3 linked regions of the Homo sapiens genome follow. The protein of the gene in region 1 interacts with the protein of each later gene in a biochemical or structural test. Each region holds a gene or a part of one and is shown on either strand. Other genes may lie near its edges.

Region 1 (7,022 bases):
AGTGATTTCTTCTCTTTGGATTCCATTTTCCACCACTTTAAAATGGGAGGATTGGTATAGATGGTCATTTCCTATTAGTAGGTGGGGAAAAAGGAGAAAGGGGGACTAAATAAGTTTGCGAACATAGGTAAACAAAGTTAAATAGATTACTGCAGCCTCATGCATTATGGCATATGAATTGGGTTGCTGGACTTCTAGCTTGGCCTTGCAAGTTAAGTGAGAGTCAGTAATATGAGTCCAGCTCTGTCTTTTTCCTAATGGTTTAGTGGAAAGAGCATGGGCTTTAGAATCAGACATATCTGGGTTTGAATCCTGACTACTCCTTAGTAGCTTTATGGCTTTATAAGTTATCTAACCTTTCTGAACTTGTCTCCTCATGTATAAATCAGGCAGGATAATACCTTGCGGAGTTGTAAAGATAATGACATTCCATGTGAAAATATCAAATAGAATATCTGATATATAATTGGTCAAAAAAGGTGTAACTTAAGTCTACAAATTCCAGAGTTAGTACAGAATGTAAGTAACACTTGATAATAGCTATTGATATCCTGCCTACATCTGGTGTTTGAGATGGACTGTTTGTTGTTTCATATATACTTATAATTCTTCCCCAAGAAAACAAAATATTCTTGAGAGCACATCATTACGTTTTGCCATCTACATAGCACTCGACATTCTCCTGGAGACTCAGTAAGTGCTTGATAAATACCTGACAGTTTCATCAAAACAGTGGAATAAAGTGAGGTGTGGTTTTCCCTGGTGTATACTTTATCCTATATTTCTTATAACCAAGGGTAGAAGTCAATGAATTTATGAATATTAATTTTAAATTTCTTTGGTTACTTAACGTTAAATGATTAAATTTGAAGTTTGAAATAATAGGATTATAAGTGAGCTGGCCTTTATTTGCTTAAGTAAACCATAAGAAGGGGGTTATAATAAAGTGTCATTTAATAGTGTAAATTATATTATTGGAATACTAATGTTTTACATTTTGTTTTTTCTCTAAGCAAATGGTTATGAGCCTTAGAGTTTCTGAACTCCAAGTACTGTTGGGCTACGCCGGGAGAAACAAGCACGGACGCAAACACGAACTTCTCACAAAAGCCCTGCATTTGCTAAAGGCTGGCTGTAGTCCTGCTGTGCAAATGAAAATTAAGGAACTCTATAGGCGGCGGTTCCCACAGAAAATCATGACGCCTGCAGACTTGTCCATCCCCAACGTACATTCAAGTCCTATGCCAGCAACTTTGTCTCCATCTACCATTCCACAACTCACTTACGATGGTCACCCTGCATCATCGCCATTACTCCCTGTTTCTCTTCTGGGACCTAAACATGAACTGGAACTCCCACATCTTACATCAGCTCTTCACCCAGTCCATCCGGATATAAAACTTCAAAAATTACCATTTTATGATTTACTGGATGAACTGATAAAACCCACCAGTCTAGGTAAGATTATTGTATGATAGTATTTGGTTACTTTTGCAGGATGAATTTTCGTTTTAGGCTTTTACTTTGACCCAGTTTATTATTCATAATGAAATTTTCATTTGATAGTAACAGCTGGATAATAATGAAGATCTTTCAAATTTAGATAAAATCAAATATATAAAAGCTGTCTTTCAGGAAAAAAGGTAGTATAGTGATGGTTACTGACAAAGTAAATATTAAAAAGTTTCAAGAATATAAACTTCCAAAGAGTAGTATTTTAGAAGGTTGATTAATATTTTATAATATCTCATAAATTAAATTAAAACCAAATGAATCACTACAAGTCTCTGATTAGTTCTTAATTTTCAGGGGTTGATGATCTCTAAAACAAATCACTGACTAGTTTTGATTATTTAAATGAGTGAATGGTTTTAATGATCATAAAAGGAGACTTGAGCTTTGATGTATGCTAGTTAAATTTCAGCTGATTTTTTTCAAGTGGAGAAGTGCATGCTTTACAGGCATGCACATGCACATGCACACTCATGATTACGGTTATATAATATAAGTGCTTGAAATTTATTTTACTGTGTTGTTCCATCATTTGATTTGTAGTCTAGCATATAGAATTCAATATATTAATCAACTTGTAATTTTAATTGCTATAATGCTACCTTATTTATTTAACGTAGAATAAAACTCAACTGTTGTGACCTCTGATGCCTTTGGTATAATATATTTAAAATATCAGACTTCTAAATGCTGGTTTGTTGGCATACTACGGCTGGCAAGCTAAGTCCAGTCTGTGGCCTGTTTTTATGTGGTTCTGAGCTAAGAAATCTGAAAAATATTCCCAAAGAGTTATTAACAAAAAAGGAAAGAAACAAAAACAAAGAATGTGTAACGGAGACCATGTGTGCCTGTAAAGCACAAAATATTTACCCGTATAGTAAAAGCTTGTGAATCCCTGTTACAGATCATTGAACATTTCAGTTTGGGGGACTGGCAAGTGTTGAGAACATTTTTTGCGAATTTTTGAGAACATTTTGAAAATGTTTACTGAAATTCTATCTTTGAAATATGAAGTGTTTGTTTTTAATTATATTTAGCAGAAATTATCTGAATACACGAAGATTATAGGAGTCATTTTCAAACAACGTGAGTTTTGTATCACATTATTTTATTTTTTAAGTGGCCATAATAAGAAAACATTTTTTGAGAATCTACTGTATGCTTATAAAACTGACACATGCTCATTGTAAAAAATGGAATTGCCAAAGTTCCTTCCTTGTTAGCTGTTTAGTGTGTATGCATATATAGTATAAGCAAATTGTTTCTTGTTTTTTACAGAAGGAATCATATACATAGTATTGTATAACTTCCCTTTTTTCCCCTTAATAATATATCATATGCATCTTTTCTTGTCTGTCTGATTATGTGTGTGTATATATATATATATATATATATATCCCATTTTAAATTAAAGGCCATATCTGTATCTATCCATATCTCTGTATATGGTCTGTGTACATGTATGTATGTGTACATATGTGTTATGTATTGATCAGTTGATGAAAACGTTGTGACCAGGGGCTTGCAGGAACCTAACCCTATACTTCCCCTGGTAGCAGTGATTATATATTCGCAAATTCAGTGTTTGTGGTGATTTTATGAACATAAATGTCACAAATAGCAATAATTGACTATATTTGAAGTATGATTTGAATGCCAGTTTTCATGAATAAATCTGCTGTTTGTGGTATGTATTCACAGAAAGTCACCAAATGAATAGGTGGTATAGAATTGCTTAGTGATATGTAAATAGATTTTCAGTATCTCATCGTTATAGAATTAAAAACAAACCAATTTAATATGCATAAAAAGATCTCACCACAAAGTAATTTGTGGAAGTTTATTGGCTCAATAAATATTTGTTGAAGGGCAATGCTTATTGAATGTGAAAAATATTTATTGAAAAAAGATTTTATGTAATTAGTCTTCAGGGTGTAGGATGAGTATATTTTAAGGCTCTGTTTTTATAAATTCTTTAACATTATTAAGACTTTTTCTGTACTTCATTAAATGAAGTGGCTACATTTGTCACATAACTTAGTTTCCTAAATGATTATTTTTGCCGGTAGTTCATTTGTTTTAAATCTAAGAAAACCACGTTTTCTGGAAAATTAAATAGCTTCCAGCATTCTCTTCATTTCTAAACGTACATACATTTAAAATCAAGTTTTTGAGAACATAGTTTCGAACACCAGCTGGCTAGTTGATCACAACTATCACTGAGTCCAGAATGGGACAGGCACATTTACTTTTTCATTTTTTCCCTTCCATTGTGGCCTTAAGCACTAGATTTAAACAGATTTTAAGATGTTCAAATGTAAACTGAATGTTTTTATGCATGGTTTTGTATTTCTAACTAAAATGGAAGACAGTAGTTCTGATAATTCCCATTTTATTAGGTAATTCTCATTCATTCTTACGATCATTTTGTTATTTCTTTAAAACAATTTAAAATAATTTTAAGGCCTTTATTTTGGAGCCATAATTAAAGTATTCTTTTCATTGTCCATAATTAACTGTAAGAATTGAGAGGTGAAGTAAAAGGTGGTTGTAAAGTAAGATGTTTAATTTATTGTTTACTTTGGCCTCTCATTATCTCAATTCTGTTTGTTTCTATGAGGCTTATTTCAAATGCTTTTTTTCTTTAACCTTTTTCATTTATCTTTCTAGGCTGTCCTCCTTTCATCTGTACATTTCTTCCCCAGCCAGAATCAATTTCACTTTCCCTGCATGCTCTCATAACATTTATTTTTTATTTTTATTTTTTTGAGACAGAGCCCCATTCTGTAGCCCAGGCTGGAGTGCAGTGGCACAATCTAGGCTCACTGCAACCTCCGCCCCACTGGGTTCAAGTGATTTTCATGCTTCATCCTCCCAAGTGGCTGAGACTTACAGGCACGTGCCACCATGCCCGACTAATTTTGTATTTTTAGTAGAGATAGGGTTTCACCATGTTGGCCAGGGTGGTCTTGAGCTCCTGACCTCAGTTGATCCGCCCACCTCGGCCTCCCAAAGTGCTGGGATTACAGGTGTGAGCCACTGCACCCGGCCTCATAACATTTATTTTTTAAATTTTATTTTATTTTATTATTTGAGACAGGGTCTTGCTCTGTTGCCCAGGCTGGAGTGCACTGGCACAATCTCAGCTCACTGCAACCTCTGTCTTTCCGGCTGAAGCAGTTCTGCCACCTCAGCCTCCCCAGTAGCTCAGACTACAGACACGTGCCACCATGACTGGCTAATTTTAGTATTTTTAGTAGAGTCAGGGTCTCATCATGTCAGCCAGGCTGGTCTCGAACTCCTGGACTCAAGTGATCTTCCCACCTTGGCCTCCCAAAGTGCTAGGATTACAGGCGTCAGCCACCACACCCAACTTAAATTGTATTTAATAATAATAATAATTATTATTATTTTTTGAGACAGGGTTTCGCTCTGTCATCCAGGCTGGAATGTGGCGGCGAGATCTTGGTTTGCTGTGGCCTTAACCTCCCTGGCTCATGCAATTTTCCCAACTCAGCCTCCCAAGTAGTTGAGACCACAGGCATGCACCACCACACCTGGCTGATTTTTGTTTTTATGTTTTGTAGAGTTGAGGTCTCATTATGTTGCCCAGGCTGTCCTAACATTTAATTTACCCTTTATTAAATGTTTTTGTTTTGTTCCTCAAAATGATAAGGCTTCTGAGGCATTTATCTATAAATCCCTATAATAGCTAGATATGAACCTGTTACATGGTAGTTCAGTAAACATTTATTAGCTCTCCAACTCGTTTTAATGCAGTAGATGGAATCTTTTATTTCATTTTAATTCAGTGGATTTTAACCATTTTACCTTGCAAACACAACTGAGCCATACCACACTCTGTAATTACAAACAGTGGCTATGATAGGGATGGGAAATAGAGTAGGGAAGAATGGTATTCTTCCTCTTATTGCCCTATCCTGTCATCTCTGAGGTTAATTGATGTCTTTGAAATTTAATATACTCCATTTAAAAAAAATTTTCCCTAATTACAAAAATGTTATGTTTAATGTAGAATCCATAGAAATTATAATTACTTGCTTACTTTACAGATAAACTTTTAAAATACTTCTGTGGTATTCTTTTTGTTAGTCATTTACGGGTGTGTGTGTGTGTGTGTGTGTGTGTGTGTGTGTGTATTTCTGGTTTCATTTTGAAGGAGAGGAGAACCTCACTAGCTCACGTAACCTGGCAGCCGCATGTATTATTGATCCATATAAATAATGGAAGAAAATTTTAATCTTGATAGGATGTTGAGCACATGTGTTAAGGGGTACTTTGTTTGAAATACCTTATTGCTTAGTGTGCCAATATTGGTGTTGATGAGGTGTGAAATTTACATAATTATGAAAATAAAAGGAAAAATAATTTTGGATTAAAATATCTTGTCCATTCAGGGACAAGATAATTATTTGATATTTCCTCTCAATCCTTTAATATTGTTTTGTTTAGAATAATACCTGTATCATTCAAAATAGTTTATAATATTGTTTATAGTTATTGTTTAAATTGGCTTTGTTAGAACATAATGGCAAAAACACAGAATACTTTCATGGTAAATAAAATAATAGTTCTTTAGGATACAGTATTTGATTTGATTCAGACTTAAGTATAAACAAATCTATTAATAGATTTATATTTGTTACTAGTTTAGCTATTTATATCTTCCTTGACTCAGGTAAATTTTCAAATAGAAAATACATTTTTAATATAGTGCTTTTAAATATTTTTAATATTTTTAATTATTTCAAAGGCCAACATGTATAGAACAGAGAGCTTTGCATTCATTTGGACTACAGATACTCCTCTGGTTATGTCCCAATAAATCCATCATAAATTGAAAATATCCAAAGTCAGAAATGCACTTAATACACTTAACCTACCAAACATGATAGGTTAGCTTAACCTACCTTAAATGTGTCTAAAACACTTACATTAGCTGACATAACATCTAACACAAGTCCTGTTTTATAATTAAGTATTGAATAGCTCATGTAATTTATTGAATATCGTACTGAAGTGAAAAACAGAATGGTTTTGTTACCAACAGAATGGTTGTGTAGGTACTCGAAGTAATTTCTACTGAATACCTATTGTTTTCTTACCACCATGAAGTTGGAAAATTGTTAAGTCGAGCCATCTGTAGTCATATAAAAGTATGGTGACTCATCTTGTTTGCTTTATATGAGATTGAAGTCAAATTTTACCTTCTCAGGGGATGTCTTTTCAAGTTTTTAAATATCTCAGGCAATATATCTGAATAAGTTCACATCATATGTCTTTATTGATTAGAGATTTCTCATTGATTGGTATGAGGCATAATAATTATTGACTATGAGTGTTACTTATTTTTTTTCTTTTTTTTTCCGAGATGGTCTCGCTGTATTGCCCAGGCTGGAGTGCAGTGGCACATTCTTGGCTCACTGCAACCTCCGCTTCCTGGCTCAAGCGATCCTCCCACCTCGCCTCCTGAGTAGCTGGGACGACAG
Region 2 (7,481 bases), on another chromosome or scaffold:
TGAATGGATGTGTAAAGTGGTTCCGTTTCAGCCCTGCCTGGGTCCATGATTTCTGTTCTGGGCCCCCTCCTGCAGCATCACCAGCAGCAGCAGCAGCAGATCAAACGGTCAGCCCGCATGTGTGGTGAGTGTGAGGCATGTCGGCGCACTGAGGACTGTGGTCACTGTGATTTCTGTCGGGACATGAAGAAGTTCGGGGGCCCCAACAAGATCCGGCAGAAGTGCCGGCTGCGCCAGTGCCAGCTGCGGGCCCGGGTGAGCATGGACAGAGCTGGGTAGGGTCAGGTGTGGGAGAGCTGGTGGGTCCATGCATGGTTAGTTAAGTCTAGGCATGGATAAACCAGGTGGGATTGGGCCTGACTGTATCCTGACAGGTGGGAAGGGGCCTGTCATGTCCAGATGAATGGGGCATGACCTGGTATGCTGGGCTGGCAGAACACCCCCACCAACCCTGGGTAGACAGAGTGGGGCCAGGTGTTTTCAGGTGGTCATGCATGTTGGTACAGATCAGGCAGGGCTGAGCATTCCTGGCAATGAGGGGTAGCGGGGAGGTGTGTCTGGGGAGGTAAGGCCAGGCCAGGTGGGTAGGGCTAGGGCAAGGCCGCCCTCCATCCACCTGGGGCTGACCTGGGCCTTCCTCCTGCCGGCACAGGAATCGTACAAGTACTTCCCTTCCTCGGTGAGTCCAGCCCCCCAGGGTGGGGTGGGGCATGCGGGCAGGGCGGTCAGGGCCAGTCCTGAGATTCTGCCCTGCAGCTCTCACCAGTGACGCCCTCAGAGTCCCTGCCAAGGCCCCGCCGGCCACTGCCCACCCAACAGCAGCCACAGCCATCACAGAAGTTAGGGCGCATCCGTGAAGATGAGGGGGCAGTGGCGTCATCAACAGTCAAGGAGCCTCCTGAGGCTACAGCCACACCTGAGCCACTCTCAGATGAGGACCTACCTCTGGATCCTGACCTGTATCAGGACTTCTGTGCAGGGGCCTTTGATGACCATGGCCTGGTGAGCAGACAGGAGCATCCACTGGTGGAAGGGTGGAGGTTACAGAAGCAGAGAGTATCCCTAATGAGGAGACAGAGGGTATGGAAGGCTGATATGGGACATGAGTAGGTGGTGGGGTTGTCACGAGCGGGGCAGGTGGGTCAGTGCATGCCCTGCTTGCAGCCCTGGATGAGCGACACAGAAGAGTCCCCATTCCTGGACCCCGCGCTGCGGAAGAGGGCAGTGAAAGTGAAGCATGTGAAGCGTCGGGAGAAGAAGTCTGAGAAGAAGGTGATGGAGAGGGTAAAGTGGATGTGGAAAGGCAGAGGGTGGGGTTGAGGGAGAGGCAGAGGTCAGAGGCTGAATGGGGCAAGAGCCAGAAAGGGCTAGAATGGAGCAAGGGTCTGGGGTCTGGGGCTGACTTTGACTCCACCCTGACCTGACTTGTCTTGCTCAACAGAAGGAGGAGCGATACAAGCGGCATCGGCAGAAGCAGAAGCACAAGGATAAATGGAAACACCCAGAGAGGGCTGATGCCAAGGACCCTGCGTCACTGCCCCAGTGCCTGGGGCCCGGCTGTGTGCGCCCCGCCCAGCCCAGCTCCAAGTATTGCTCAGATGACTGTGGCATGAAGCTGGCAGCCAAGTGAGTCATTCCTGAGAGGTTCAAGGGAGTCAGGAAGTGCATGGTAGGGCCTGACCACAGCCTTCTGTATGTCTACCAGTCAATCAGCTATCCACCAGTCACCAAACAGCCACTACCCACTCACCCATCCACCTACCCACCCACCTGCCCGTGTGTCCATCCAGCCACCATTCCGCCAGTCACCTATTTACTTCTCCTTTTGCCATTTGCGTCTATTTTGCCATTCTCACTTACTGATCACCTCACTCATTCTGTTGCTTGCTACCTTCCCTGCAGCCGCATCTACGAGATCCTCCCCCAGCGCATCCAGCAGTGGCAGCAGAGCCCTTGCATTGCTGAAGAGCACGGCAAGAAGCTGCTCGAACGCATTCGCCGAGAGCAGCAGAGTGCCCGCACTCGCCTTCAGGAAATGGAACGCCGATTCCATGAGCTTGAGGCCATCATTCTACGTGCCAAGCAGCAGGCTGTGCGCGAGGATGAGGAGGTGAGCAAGCAGGGGCGCAGCAGAGCAGGGCCTGTACTTTGTCCTTCCCAGCCTTATTGTTCCTTCCATTCCATGCAGAGCAACGAGGGTGACAGTGATGACACAGACCTGCAGATCTTCTGTGTTTCCTGTGGGCACCCCATCAACCCACGTGTTGCCTTGCGCCACATGGAGCGCTGCTACGCCAAGGTTGGGGTGTCAGACTGAGGGGGCGGACCATGTGGGAACATCAGTGGGCCAGTGGGGGACAGATTTGTTGTCTGGGTGGTGTCTTGGGAGGGCATGCAGCGCACATCCACAGTTCCCTCCATTTGTGCTCATCCCTCCAGTATGAGAGCCAGACGTCCTTTGGGTCCATGTACCCCACACGCATTGAAGGGTAAGTGAGGGTGCCACGCAGTGAGAGGTGGGGGGTTAAGGCGGGGGTCAGAAGTGGGATGTGTGTGGAGCTGGGGCAGGATACGGGCAACCAGCCAGGACAGATGGACCTCCCTTCCCTCCCTCTACTGCCCTCTCTACTCCAAATCCCCAGGGCCACACGACTCTTCTGTGATGTGTATAATCCTCAGAGCAAAACATACTGTAAGCGGCTCCAGGTGCTGTGCCCCGAGCACTCACGGGACCCCAAAGTAAGGTTTTCCCTCAGCTCCTCCCATTTTGCCCCTCCTCCCTGCCTCGCTGTCCCACATTCATCCCTTCCTTCCTCACCTCACTTTTCCTTCACTTTTTCCTCTCAGCTTCCCTGCTGCTTCACCCTCCATTCCTCCTTTTCCATGCCTCCTCACCGTTCCCTGAACCCTCCATTCTTTTCCTTCTCCCTCCTTGAGCCCCCATTCCTATTCTCCCTTATCACCGCTATTCATCCCCCCAACCTGGCCTCCTTGCAGGTGCCAGCTGACGAGGTATGCGGGTGCCCCCTTGTACGTGATGTCTTTGAGCTCACGGGTGACTTCTGCCGCCTGCCCAAGCGCCAGTGCAATCGCCATTACTGCTGGGAGAAGCTGCGGCGTGCGGAAGTGGACTTGGAGCGCGTGCGTGTGGTAGGTTTCTGTGCGGTTTTGGTGCTGCATGTGGTAGGTTTCCATGTCGGACGTGGCCGGGGCAGGCGGGGCTGCAGGTGTTCCTGCTTAGGACTCCTGCCGCTCCCTTGGCAGTGGTACAAGCTGGACGAGCTGTTTGAGCAGGAGCGCAATGTGCGCACAGCCATGACAAACCGCGCGGGATTGCTGGCCCTGATGCTGCACCAGACGATCCAGCACGATCCCCTCACTACCGACCTGCGCTCCAGTGCCGACCGCTGAGCCTCCTGGCCCGGACCCCTTACACCCTGCATTCCAGATGGGGGAGCCGCCCGGTGCCCGTGTGTCCGTTCCTCCACTCATCTGTTTCTCCGGTTCTCCCTGTGCCCATCCACCGGTTGACCGCCCATCTGCCTTTATCAGAGGGACTGTCCCCGTCGACATGTTCAGTGCCTGGTGGGGCTGCGGAGTCCACTCATCCTTGCCTCCTCTCCCTGGGTTTTGTTAATAAAATTTTGAAGAAACCAAGGAAGCTGTCTCCACATTGCTGCGGTTGCAACTGTTCCAGACTTCTGGATAAGATGGGGGGCGCCTGCACCCCGCGAGAGCCCAGGGACCCACATTCCCAGCCTCCCACGGGCAGAGGGTCTACGCAGCGCGCCTTCAGTGTGGTGACACCGCCCATGCATGCTCCTGTCTCCCACCCAGAGCTGTCGTCCGCTGTGGACGCCAGGCCCCGCCTTTTCCCCACAAGCCCCACGTTGGGGATCCGCCTCCTGCAGGGGCGCGCCCTCCCGCGTGCCTCAGTTTACCTGCGGTGTGGCACCGCCCCTTTCCCCGCCCCGCGCGCTCCCACAGCTGTTCGGCGGGGAGGAGGGAGCGGGACACGACCCCCCCTGGGGTTGATGTTCGGAGGGACCCACGAACACAGGATAGACCCCAGCGAGAGGTGGGAGAGGAGAGCGCCGGCAGGGCCAGGGAGTGCGCAGGCGCGAAGCAGCTTCCTTGCCGCGTTCGGTATCGGCTGTGGAGACCGCGGGAGGGAAGGGAGGGCGCAGGCGCAAGCCCTCCCCGACCGCTTCCCTTCAGGTTGAGGCTGGAAAGCGCATGCGCCAGCTAGATGGGCAGCGAGGAGAGCCGCAACTGCCAGTCCCTCGAAGGGGTTAGCTGTCGTTGAACGTCAGCACGCAGATGCAACTGGCTCTCGGCAGGGGGGCGCGCGCACCGCTGCGGAGCGCCGGCCCGTAGGCGCGGGAGCCTCCCTATTAAGGGCACGCGACATCGAGGCAATAGTGCGCAGGTGCTTAGCCAGAGGCGGAGCCCGAGAGGCAGGCAGCGGACTTCCGGTTCCGGGAGCAACGAACAGCCGCGGAGGCGACAGCTACCGCTTCAGAGGAGGCGGCCGCGGAGGAGGAGGAAGGGGAGGAGGGCGAGGCGGGAGGTGCAGGAGGGACCCTCGCCATGGGTCCACGGGCCTAGAGTGGCGGAAGATACCGGCCTGGTGCCAAACTGGTGAGACAGCCTTGGGGCTGGACGTGGAGAGCGCTCAGGCGGAGGATGGGAAGGAATTGTGGCTCAGAACGCTGACGGGGAGGAATGAAGGGCCCTCAGGCCGATAAGGGGGAGGAATGGCGGCGTCGGAATACTGACGAGGAGAAATGGGGGGATTTAGGCTGAGGACGGGAAGGAATGCAGCTCTGAACTCTGACAGGTAGGAGTGTCGGGATCCTGGGACGAGGACGGAGAGGAATGGTGGAGATCAGAACGCTAAAGGGAGACATCGGGGCATCTGAAGTTGAGAGAGAAATGGGGGTTCAGAACTCTGAGAGGGAGAAATGAGGGGCCCTCAGGCTGATGACAGGAGAAATAGAGGCTTTGGAATGCTGAAAGGGAGGAATAGGAGGCCCCATATAGAGGACGAGGAGCAGTAGGGGATCAGAATGGTGACAGTTAGGGATGGCATGATCCCGGGACAAGAACAGAGAGAATGGAGGAGGGTTCGGAATGCTGAGGGGAGAAATTAGGGTCTCTCTGGATGATAAGGGAGGAATGGAGGATGAGAACAGTAAGGAGGAGAAGTGGGGAACTTTTTGGCTGTAGAGGAAGGTTTGGGAGCTCAGACTAGGGAGAAATTGTGGGTGAGAACATTGAAGGAGAAGAAAAATAAGGGGGGAGGTCTTGGGCTGAGGAAGGGGAGGCATGGGAGGCTTCCAGTGTGAGGAATGGAAAAGATGAGGGGCTGTTCAGGCTATGGGTTGGAGCAGTTGTGTCTCGCAGAGGAAGTCGAGGTTGTAACACTGAGGTAGCAGGATAAGAGGACATCAGGCAGAGAAGGAATGGAGTGGTTAAAACACTGAAGGAGGGAAATTAGGAACTCCTGGGTCAAGGAAGGGGGGAATGAGAGACTACTGAAGTCAAGTAGTGAGGGCAAGAGAAATGGGGCCCTTTGGGGCTGAGGATGGGGACTATGGGGGTCTTGGGGTGATAAAATAGAGGGATAGAGGCCCTTAGGTCAGTGACAGGGAGGAATGAGGGGGAAGGATGAAAAGTTTCTGGATTGGCAGTGAGGAGAAATGATGGGTTGTCAGTCTGAGGATAGAGAGGAGTAGGGGATTAGGACACTGAGAATAAGAAACAGGGATCCTTGGGTTGAGGAATGATGATATCCTAGGCCCAGAATAGGAAAGAATGGGGTGAGAATATGAGGGGTTTCTTTTCCATATATGGGCTGGTTGCCTGTGGCAGGTCCTAGGGCTTGGGCAAGCACTAATGGATACCAGTGATTTGTGTGGCCTGGGGCACAGTGTTGTCCCTTCCTAGAGCCTCAGTTTCCCTCATCCCTTCCACCCCCTTTCAGGCTACTGCTGCTTCCTGTGGCCTCCATGGCTGAGGACTGGCTGGACTGCCCGGCCCTGGGCCCTGGCTGGAAGCGCCGCGAAGTCTTTCGCAAGTCAGGGGCCACCTGTGGACGCTCAGACACCTATTACCAGAGGTACTGGGTGGGTAGTGGGCAGAGTCAGGAGTGGGGTAGAGCCTGATTCTGGTAAAATCAAATGGTGTGGTTAAATTTATGGATGAAGTTTAAATTATGCACATACAGTTAATCCTTATTAGCGGATTTTATGTTTGAATTTCACCTACTTAATAAAATTTATTTGTAACTTAAAAGTCACTACTCACAGTGCATTTGTGATTATTCAAGAATACGTACAGAGCAGTGAAAAACTGTCACTCAATGCATGTATTTCTAGCTGAGGCTGAAGGAGCCCTTTTCAGCTTTAATACTGTAAACAGGTGTCCTTTTCGTGGTCTGTTTAGTGTCACATTTTTCTAATTTTTGTACTTTTTGGTGATTTTGCTTTTTAAAATGGTCCCCAAGCATAGTGCTGAGGTGCTGTTTAGTGTTCTGTGAGAAGACTATGTCGTGCTTTATGGAGAAAATACAAGGCAGATAAACTTTGCTGGTTATCTGAGTTACAATGCTGTTGGCTGTAAGTTCAATGTTATGCATCAGAATTATGGTACAACCAGAAAAAGAAGGAAATTTGCCAATATGTGCACAAAGCTGCTTCAGAAAGTACAGAAAGCATTTATAGTCTTGAAGCTATGTAAGAGATGAGAAAGCAGCTACATTGGTGGGTTCATGAAATGACGATCAATAAAGCATAGTTGACAGCATTGTTGAGGAAAGCCAAAGTCATGTTACCCTGGGTTAGGAAAATATTAAGGTTATATCAGCTAGTGCTGGCTGACTTGCACATTTCAAAAGGCGACATGGCATGAAACATGTTAAACCTGCATGCAATGCAGGTTCTGCTGATCAGGAGTCTTCCGAAGAATTTTAAAAATACCTGTTAAGTGTTGTACAGGAAAGGGGTTGTGTGGAAGAGTGGTTTTCAATGTCAATGAGATTGGCTTGTTAAACAAGAATATTGGCAAAAAACCTTACATAACACATACGGCCTCCAAGTCCCCTGGTTTGAGTCATTCAAAGACCATGCAAATAATCATTTGTAAAAAAAAATATGTATTAAGTAATGTGTGTTTAAACAGAAACACACACAAAACAAAAGTTCAGATGCTCTCAGGAACCTAACCCTGTATTTCTTCTAGGAGCAATGGTTTTGTATTCAATGTTCATGATAGCTTTGTAGAACGTAACTACCATAACTAATGAGAGTCAACATAGATGTTTATAAGCATTTACATGTGTTTAAGAAACATTATTAAGTTTCTATATTCTTTCTGATTTTTTAAATCTAAGTTGCTATCTTTCCAGGTAAATATCAAATTACAAATTACTTTTTGTTTATATTTAGTTATAATTTATTCACATATTTATGTACTTGTAT
Region 3 (7,022 bases), on another chromosome or scaffold:
GGAGAATCGCTTGAACCCGGGAGGCAAAGGTTGTAGTGAGCCGAGATCACACCACTGCTATGCTCTAGCCTGGGCAACAAGCGAAACTCCGTCTCAAAAAAAAAAAAAGAAAAAATAGTGCCGATGTATTTTGTTTTGGGGAGAAGGCACTTTAACATATCAGTTCAGTGCTCTGGAGGCAGCTGCTGAGGTTCACATCTGGTTACATTTTGGGCAAGTGACTGAACTTCTTCAATCCTCAATTTCCTCTTCTATAAACGGGGAATAATAATATATACCTCATAGGAATCTGTGTGGGTTTGGTGGGATAATGAATGGAAAGCACAGTACCGTCAGTGCCTGGCTCCTAGGGAGCATTCAGTAACTGGTGACTGTCATTAGTAACGTTGTCTCACCTACCTTACTGCTGAACTTGGGGCTTTTCTCAGCACCATGGATCACCCGTGTCCGCACAAGAGTTGAGCACCCCACCCCAGAGCAGAACCAGCATGGTCTGACTCTTTCACACTCCGTCCTACGGAAGCCCATCTTCAGGGCCCATGGAACTTACTAGTAAAATGCAGAGAATCATAGCAACTCAAGAGTATTATTGTGAGGACAAGATAAGGTGGAATGTATGTGAAAGGGTTTTATGAACTGTAAAGTAGTATACAAAAGTAAAGCATTTTTGTTGATTTTATTTTAACCTTTTATGCTTTTAAGTTTTATTTCGCTGTTTTTTATTTCCCCTTTTTTTTTTTTTTTTTTTGAGATGGAATCTCACTCTGTCGCCAGGCTGGAGTGTAGTGGCGCAATCTTGGCTCACTGCAACCTCTGCCTCCCAGGTTCAAGCAATTTTTCTGCCTCAGCCTCCCGAGTAGCTGAGACTACAGGTGCGCACCACTACACCCAGCTAATTTTTGTATTTTTAGTAGAGACGGGGTTTCGCCATGTTGGCCAGGATGGTCTCCATCTCTTGACCTCGTGATCCTCCCACCTTGGCCTCCCAAAGTACTGGGATTACAGGCGTGAGCCACTGCGCCCAGCCTATTTCCCTTTTTTTAAAGACAGGGTCTCATTCTGTCACCCAGGCTGCACTGCAGTGGTGTGATCATAGCTCACTATATCCTCCAACTCCTGGGCTCAAGCCACCCTCCTGCCTCAGCCTCAGGTGCTGCCACACCCAGCTAATTATTTTTTTTTATTTTAATTTTTTGTAGAGACAGGATCTCACTTTGTTGCCCAGGCTTATCTCATAGCCCTGGGCTCAAGCAATCCTCCTGCTTCAGCCTGGAATTACAGGCATGAGCCACCGTGCCTGGCCTGTATTTCTTTTTTAATGCTTTTTTAAACCTGTTCTTTCCCCGCTTTTTTTAAACTTCTTTTTATTTATTTTTTTAAATGGCTGTTTTTCCTAATAGGACATATTCTCACCACCCAGGAATCCTAGCATGTACATAGATTTAATTGATGAGGGGAGATGGCAGTGTTCCCAGACCATCTGTGAAGGGTCCGAGTTTTCTGCTTCTATATTTACAGGCCCCTAATTGCTAAGAAGAATCCTAAGATCCCAATGTCTAAGATGATGACCATCCTTGGGGCCAAATGGAGAGAGTTCAGTGCCAACAACCCCTTCAAGGGGTCAGCAGCTGCTGTGGCGGCGGCAGCGGCAGCAGCAGCAGCAGCTGTAGCTGAGCAGGTGTCAGCTGCTGTCTCGTCGGCCACCCCCATAGCACCCTCCGGACCCCCCGCCCTTCCACCACCCCCTGCTGCTGATATCCAGCCCCCACCCATCCGAAGAGCCAAAACCAAAGAGGGCAAAGGTAGGGAACTCTCTTCCAACAACTGTCATCTCACCTTCCAAACTGCATGTCTTCACATTAGAGTCTGGAACTCTCGCCTTCCCAGCCCTGATTGCTGGAGGAGAGATGCTTTCCAGGAAGTGGGGCTTAGTGAAACCACAGCCCACAGAGGAATCCAGAGGCCCCTGTGACCTCCATAATTCCAGGATGTCATGACCTCTCCTTTTTCCTCTTCTCACCCCGACTCCTCATTCAGGTCCAGGCCATAAGAGGCGGAGTAAGAGCCCCCGAGTGCCTGATGGACGCAAGAAGCTTCGGGGAAAGAAAATGGCACCACTCAAAATAAAACTAGGGCTTCTGGGTGGCAAGAGGAAGAAAGGAGGCTCGGTGAGTGACCCGTCCCTGTCTACTAAACACCTGGGGGCCAAGGATCCAGAGACAGGGATCCGTGAGGGCCAAGGATCCAGAGACAGGGATCCGTGAGGGATGGCGGAACAGGAAGCCAAAGGCCTGGGGAGGGCGTAGAATGAAGTCTGCCTCACTGACGGCCACGGGGCTATGGGCAGTATGTTTTTCAGAGCGACGAAGGTCCTGAACCAGAGGCTGAGGAATCAGACCTGGACAGTGGCAGTGTCCACAGTGCCTCAGGCCGGCCTGATGGCCCTGTCCGCACCAAGAAACTAAAGAGAGGCCGGCCAGGAAGGAAGAAGAAGAAGGGTAAGGAGTGTTGACTGTGTGTGATCCTGTCAGTGGGCCGTCCTCTCATTCTTATTTTCAATTTTGACTTCTCTCTTCAACCCTTCTCCCTCTCTCTCTCCATCTCCCCCTGCCCTGCTTCCTTATCCCTCCACCGGGGTATATGACAGTCCTGGGCTGTCCTGCAGTGGCCGGGGAGGAGGAGGTTGATGGCTACGAGACGGATCACCAGGATTACTGTGAGGTGTGCCAGCAGGGTGGGGAAATTATTCTGTGTGACACCTGCCCTCGTGCCTACCACCTCGTCTGCCTTGATCCTGAGCTTGACCGGGCTCCAGAGGGCAAATGGAGCTGCCCTCACTGTGTGAGTACCTAATGCCAGCATCTGATGGCCCTGAGGAACCCACCCATCTCTTTCCCCCTTGGTTTCACTTACCCTCTTCCTGCCCCCAGATGGCTGGACTTCTTAGTAACAGATGTCCGAGTGTCTAGGATCCTAATGTATTCCTTTCTCCCACAATCAACATTTCTGAAACTGGAGTGTCCTTTTCCTTAGTTCCCACCAGTCTTCTCTGCACTTCTAGGATTCAGGTGTCCTGTCTTTGCCTGTATCTTCCAGTTTCATTCCTTAATTTCTTCCATCTGTCTGTGTGTCTATCCTTGGCCCCCTAGGAGAAGGAGGGGGTCCAGTGGGAGGCCAAGGAGGAAGAAGAAGAATACGAAGAGGAGGGAGAGGAAGAAGGGGAGAAGGAGGAGGAGGATGATCACATGGAGTACTGCCGCGTATGCAAGGACGGCGGGGAGCTCCTGTGCTGTGACGCGTGCATCTCCTCCTACCACATTCATTGTCTAAACCCTCCCCTGCCTGACATTCCCAATGGTGAATGGCTGTGTCCCCGATGCACAGTGAGTGGAAACATCTCCCCTCTGTATTTACTGTCAGGCCTGATCCCTTCCCCCATCCCTGGGGCCCACATGTCCAGCTTTTCATTTCTCTGCACTCCCCCACCCTTGTGGGACCCCTATCTTCTCATCTAACAATGGGTTCTTTCTGCCTCTTTCTTTCCTCCTCCTTGTACGTGTCCATCCCAAAGTGCCCCGTGCTGAAGGGTCGAGTGCAGAAGATCCTACATTGGCGGTGGGGGGAGCCACCTGTAGCAGTGCCAGCCCCTCAACAGGCAGATGGAAATCCAGATGTCCCACCCCCCCGTCCTCTTCAAGGCAGATCAGAGCGAGAGTTCTTTGTCAAGTGGGTAGGACTATCCTACTGGCACTGCTCCTGGGCCAAGGAGCTTCAGGTACTAGGACCTTTTCTTTCCCTCTCCCCCATGACCTCATTTCCTGCCATCCTCTCCCTCTCTTACTCCTCTGTTTGTTGGGTTCCCATACTCTTTGTTTTCTCTCATTTCAGGCCTGTGGCCTTCATACCCTACTTGCTTAGTTTCCATATGTGGTTCTTTTGGTCTACAGTCCTCTTTCTCTCAGTCTCCGTTAGCTTCCTTCCCTCAGATATAGCATAGCCTTTCCTAACTTCATGTCCTTCCTTATCTGTCTTTTTCCATGTTTTATAATATTCCTGGCTGGGCATGGTGGCTCACACCTATAATCCTAGCACTTTGGGAGGCCAAGGCAGGAGGATTGCTTGAGACCAGCCTGGGCAACATAGTGAAACCCCATCTCTGTTTAAAAAAAAATTCTCGGCTGGGTGTGGTGGCTCACGCCTGTAATCCCAGTACTTTGGGAGGCCGAGGTGGGCGGATCACCTGAGGTCAGGAGATCGAGACTATCCTGGCTAACATGGTGAAACCCCATCTCTACTAAAAATACAAAAAAATTAGCTGGGCGTGGTGGCAGGCACCTGTAGTCCCAGCTACTCAGGAGGCTGAGACAGGAGAATGGCGTGAACCCGGGAGGCGGAGCTTGCAGTGAGCCAAGATCGTGTCCCTGCACTTCAGCCTGGGCGACAGAGCGACACTCTATCTCAAAAAAAAAAAAAAAAAAAAAAAAATTCTCAATGTTTCTAATCCCATTCCCTATCTCTTGCTTGTAAGAGCCCCACCCAGGCCTTGTCTTCTGAAACTGTTGCATCTGTTTCATTTTATTTATTCTCCGTCTTGGCTTTGACTCATTTATCTCTAATCCATCCTTTTTCTTTTTTTTTCTATTTTTTTTTTTTTTTAGATGGAGTTTCGCTCTTGTTGCCTAGGCTGGAGTGCAGTGGCACGATCTTGGCTTACTGCAACCTCTGCCTCCTGGGTTCAAGCGATTCTCCTGCCTCAGCCACTCAAGTAGCTGGGATTACAGGCATGCGCCACCACGCTTGGCTAATTTTGTATTTTTAGTAGAGACGGGGTTTCTCCATGTTGATCAGGCTGGTCTCGAACTCCCAACCTCAGGTGATCCACCTGCCTCTGCCTCCCAAAGTGCTGGGACGCGCCTGTTATTCTCTTATTGCCCCGGCTGGAGTGCAGTGGTGTGATCTTGGCTCGCTGCAACCTCCGCCTCATGCATTCAAGCGATTCTCCTGCCTCAGCCTCCTGAGTATCTGGGATTACAGGCGTGCGCCACCACACCTGGCTAATTTCTGTATTTTTAGTAGAGACGGGGTTTCGCCATGTTGGCCAGGCTGGTCTTGAACTCCTGACCTCAGGTGATCCACCCGCCTGAGCCTCCTAAAGCACTGGGATTACAGGCATGAGCCACCGTGCCTGGGCCAATCCATCCTTTTTCATAGCTCCCTTTCCCTGTCCCATTCCTCCTGCCGGCCTCTTCCCGGTTCCTTGTTGTCCTCTGTGAGTGTCAGGACTATCTCTTTCCCTTTTTTCTGTGCCCTGCTAGCTGGAAATCTTCCATTTGGTTATGTATCGAAACTACCAGCGGAAGAATGACATGGATGAGCCCCCACCCCTGGACTATGGCTCCGGCGAGGATGATGGGAAGAGCGACAAGCGTAAAGTGAAAGACCCGCACTATGCTGAGATGGAGGAGAAGTACTATCGTTTTGGCATCAAGCCAGAGTGGATGACCGTCCACCGCATCATCAACCACAGGTGAATCCTCGGTCCCTGGGAAGTCAGACCTGGTATATGACATTATTCTTACCATGGTGATGGCCCCATGTTAGTATTTGCTGATTAACCAGGTAATTGATCTAACCTTGATAACCTCTGCTGTAGCTCCAGCCTTTCTGGCCTTGTTTCCTCCAGGGGAACGGGAGAAAACAGGAGGAAAATCCGGCCAGGCAGTGCCTCTTTTGTCCTTTGCCTCCTGTCATCTCCAGTGGCATAAGACATAGCACATGAGTCTGGGGATGAGGGCATGAAAGCAAAACATGAGAGACATAATTCATCCAGACCAGTGTTTTGAATGTTTCTTCTTCATAGTACTTATTACTGCCTAAACTTAATGGTATGTATTTAGTTATTTCAATGCTGCCTTCCCCACGAGACTCTGAGTTCCATGAGGAAAATACTTAGTGATTAGGTGAACAAATGATAAGGAGGGATCTCCAGGAATGTTTTGTGATAGCTGATTTTTAGGATACCATCCTGAGAAGGTTAGGCTGCTAGGTCAACTATTCCAATCTCCCTTCCAGCAGCTCACTGTTGACGGTTGGGTGACAAATTTTGTGTGTTTGCTGATAATTGCGTTTCTCAGGCCTTCTTTCTGTTTGTGATCTGTGCAATATTTTCCTCCTGCTCCTCCCCATGGCCTCCTGCCCCACAGTGTGGATAAAAAGGGGAATTACCACTATCTAGTAAAATGGAGGGACTTACCATATGACCAGTCCACGTGGGAGGAAGATGAAATGAATATCCCTGAATACGAAGAACATAAGCAAAGCTACTGGAGACACCGGTGAGGGAATGAGCTTGTGGATTCAAGGGATTCTGACGATGAGGGCATGAAAGCCAAAACTCCAGCATAAAATGAGGGTACAGTAGGGCCTGATTCAACCTGGAGTTCAGGGCAATGGCCACCTGAGCTGGGTTGTTTGAGATAGGCTTGCTAAAGAGGTAGTGTAAGGAACAGAAACAAGATCTGGCTGAGTAGTGGAGAAGAGGATGTTCAAGAGTGGGGAGGGCTGGCTCTTGAGGTGAAATCCAAAGGGCAAGGGTAAAGAGCCTGGGAAAAAGGAAATATGGGAAAATCTAGGTCATGGACAGTGGGAAGTAGGTCTGGAATGGGTTCAGAAAAGAAAGCGTAGGACTCCCAAGGATGAGGCCTCATTCAGACCCACTCTTTTTCCAGAGAACTAATTATGGGGGAAGACCCTGCCCAGCCCCGCAAGTATAAGAAGAAGAAGAAGGAGCTACAGGGTGATGGGCCTCCCAGTTCTCCCACTAATGATGTGAGTCCTCTCAGTTGTCATTTCTTGTTTCTGGAGTGATGGTGATCGAAGATTTTCCAAGGGCTACTGATGGAACTTCCCAGAGATTCAGTAACCTCTGTGAACAGTAGCTCTTCCTTCAGCATCCAGTCTTGCCCCAAGAGTGGCTAAGAATTTTGGCCTGAAAGGGCAGGAGCCACTAGAGATAGCCCACT

Evidence for each region. The genes of interacting proteins can lie anywhere in the genome.
Region 2: the proteins of PIAS1 (region 1) and MBD1 form a complex in vitro, tested with the Homo sapiens proteins (one study listed by BioGRID).
Region 3: of the proteins of PIAS1 (region 1) and CHD3, one has a biochemical effect on the other in vitro, tested with the Homo sapiens proteins (one study listed by BioGRID).

The regions. Positions count from the first base shown.
Region 1 is NC_000015.10:68,085,293-68,092,314, forward strand, and holds part of PIAS1 (E3 SUMO-protein ligase PIAS1), read left to right. Parts: intron 1-1,013; coding exon 1,014-1,458; intron 1,459-2,552; exon of another isoform or gene 2,553-2,598; intron 2,599-7,022. UniProt on the Homo sapiens protein: Functions as an E3-type small ubiquitin-like modifier (SUMO) ligase, stabilizing the interaction between UBE2I and the substrate, and as a SUMO-tethering factor. Catalyzes sumoylation of various proteins, such as CEBPB, MRE11, MTA1, PTK2 and PML.
Region 2 is NC_000018.10:50,278,523-50,286,003, reverse strand, and holds the start of MBD1 (methyl-CpG-binding domain protein 1), read left to right. Parts: upstream 1-4,480; 5' UTR 4,481-4,641; exon of another isoform or gene 4,642-4,787; coding exon of another isoform or gene 4,788-4,840; intron 4,841-5,986; coding exon of another isoform or gene 5,987-6,011; coding exon 6,012-6,121; exon of another isoform or gene 6,122-6,128; intron 6,129-7,481. Other genes in the region: CXXC1 (CXXC-type zinc finger protein 1), read left to right, coding at 76-255, 653-679, 757-1,002, 1,165-1,284, 1,442-1,626, 1,903-2,110, 2,189-2,299, 2,440-2,489 and 3 more. UniProt on the Homo sapiens protein: Transcriptional repressor that binds CpG islands in promoters where the DNA is methylated at position 5 of cytosine within CpG dinucleotides. Binding is abolished by the presence of 7-mG that is produced by DNA damage by methylmethanesulfonate (MMS).
Region 3 is NC_000017.11:7,891,768-7,898,789, forward strand, and holds part of CHD3 (chromodomain-helicase-DNA-binding protein 3), read left to right. Parts: intron 1-1,518; coding exon 1,519-1,802; intron 1,803-2,037; coding exon 2,038-2,168; intron 2,169-2,347; coding exon 2,348-2,498; intron 2,499-2,647; coding exon 2,648-2,841; intron 2,842-3,149; coding exon 3,150-3,383; intron 3,384-3,571; coding exon 3,572-3,775; intron 3,776-5,315; coding exon 5,316-5,527; intron 5,528-6,203; coding exon 6,204-6,335; intron 6,336-6,728; coding exon 6,729-6,828; intron 6,829-7,022.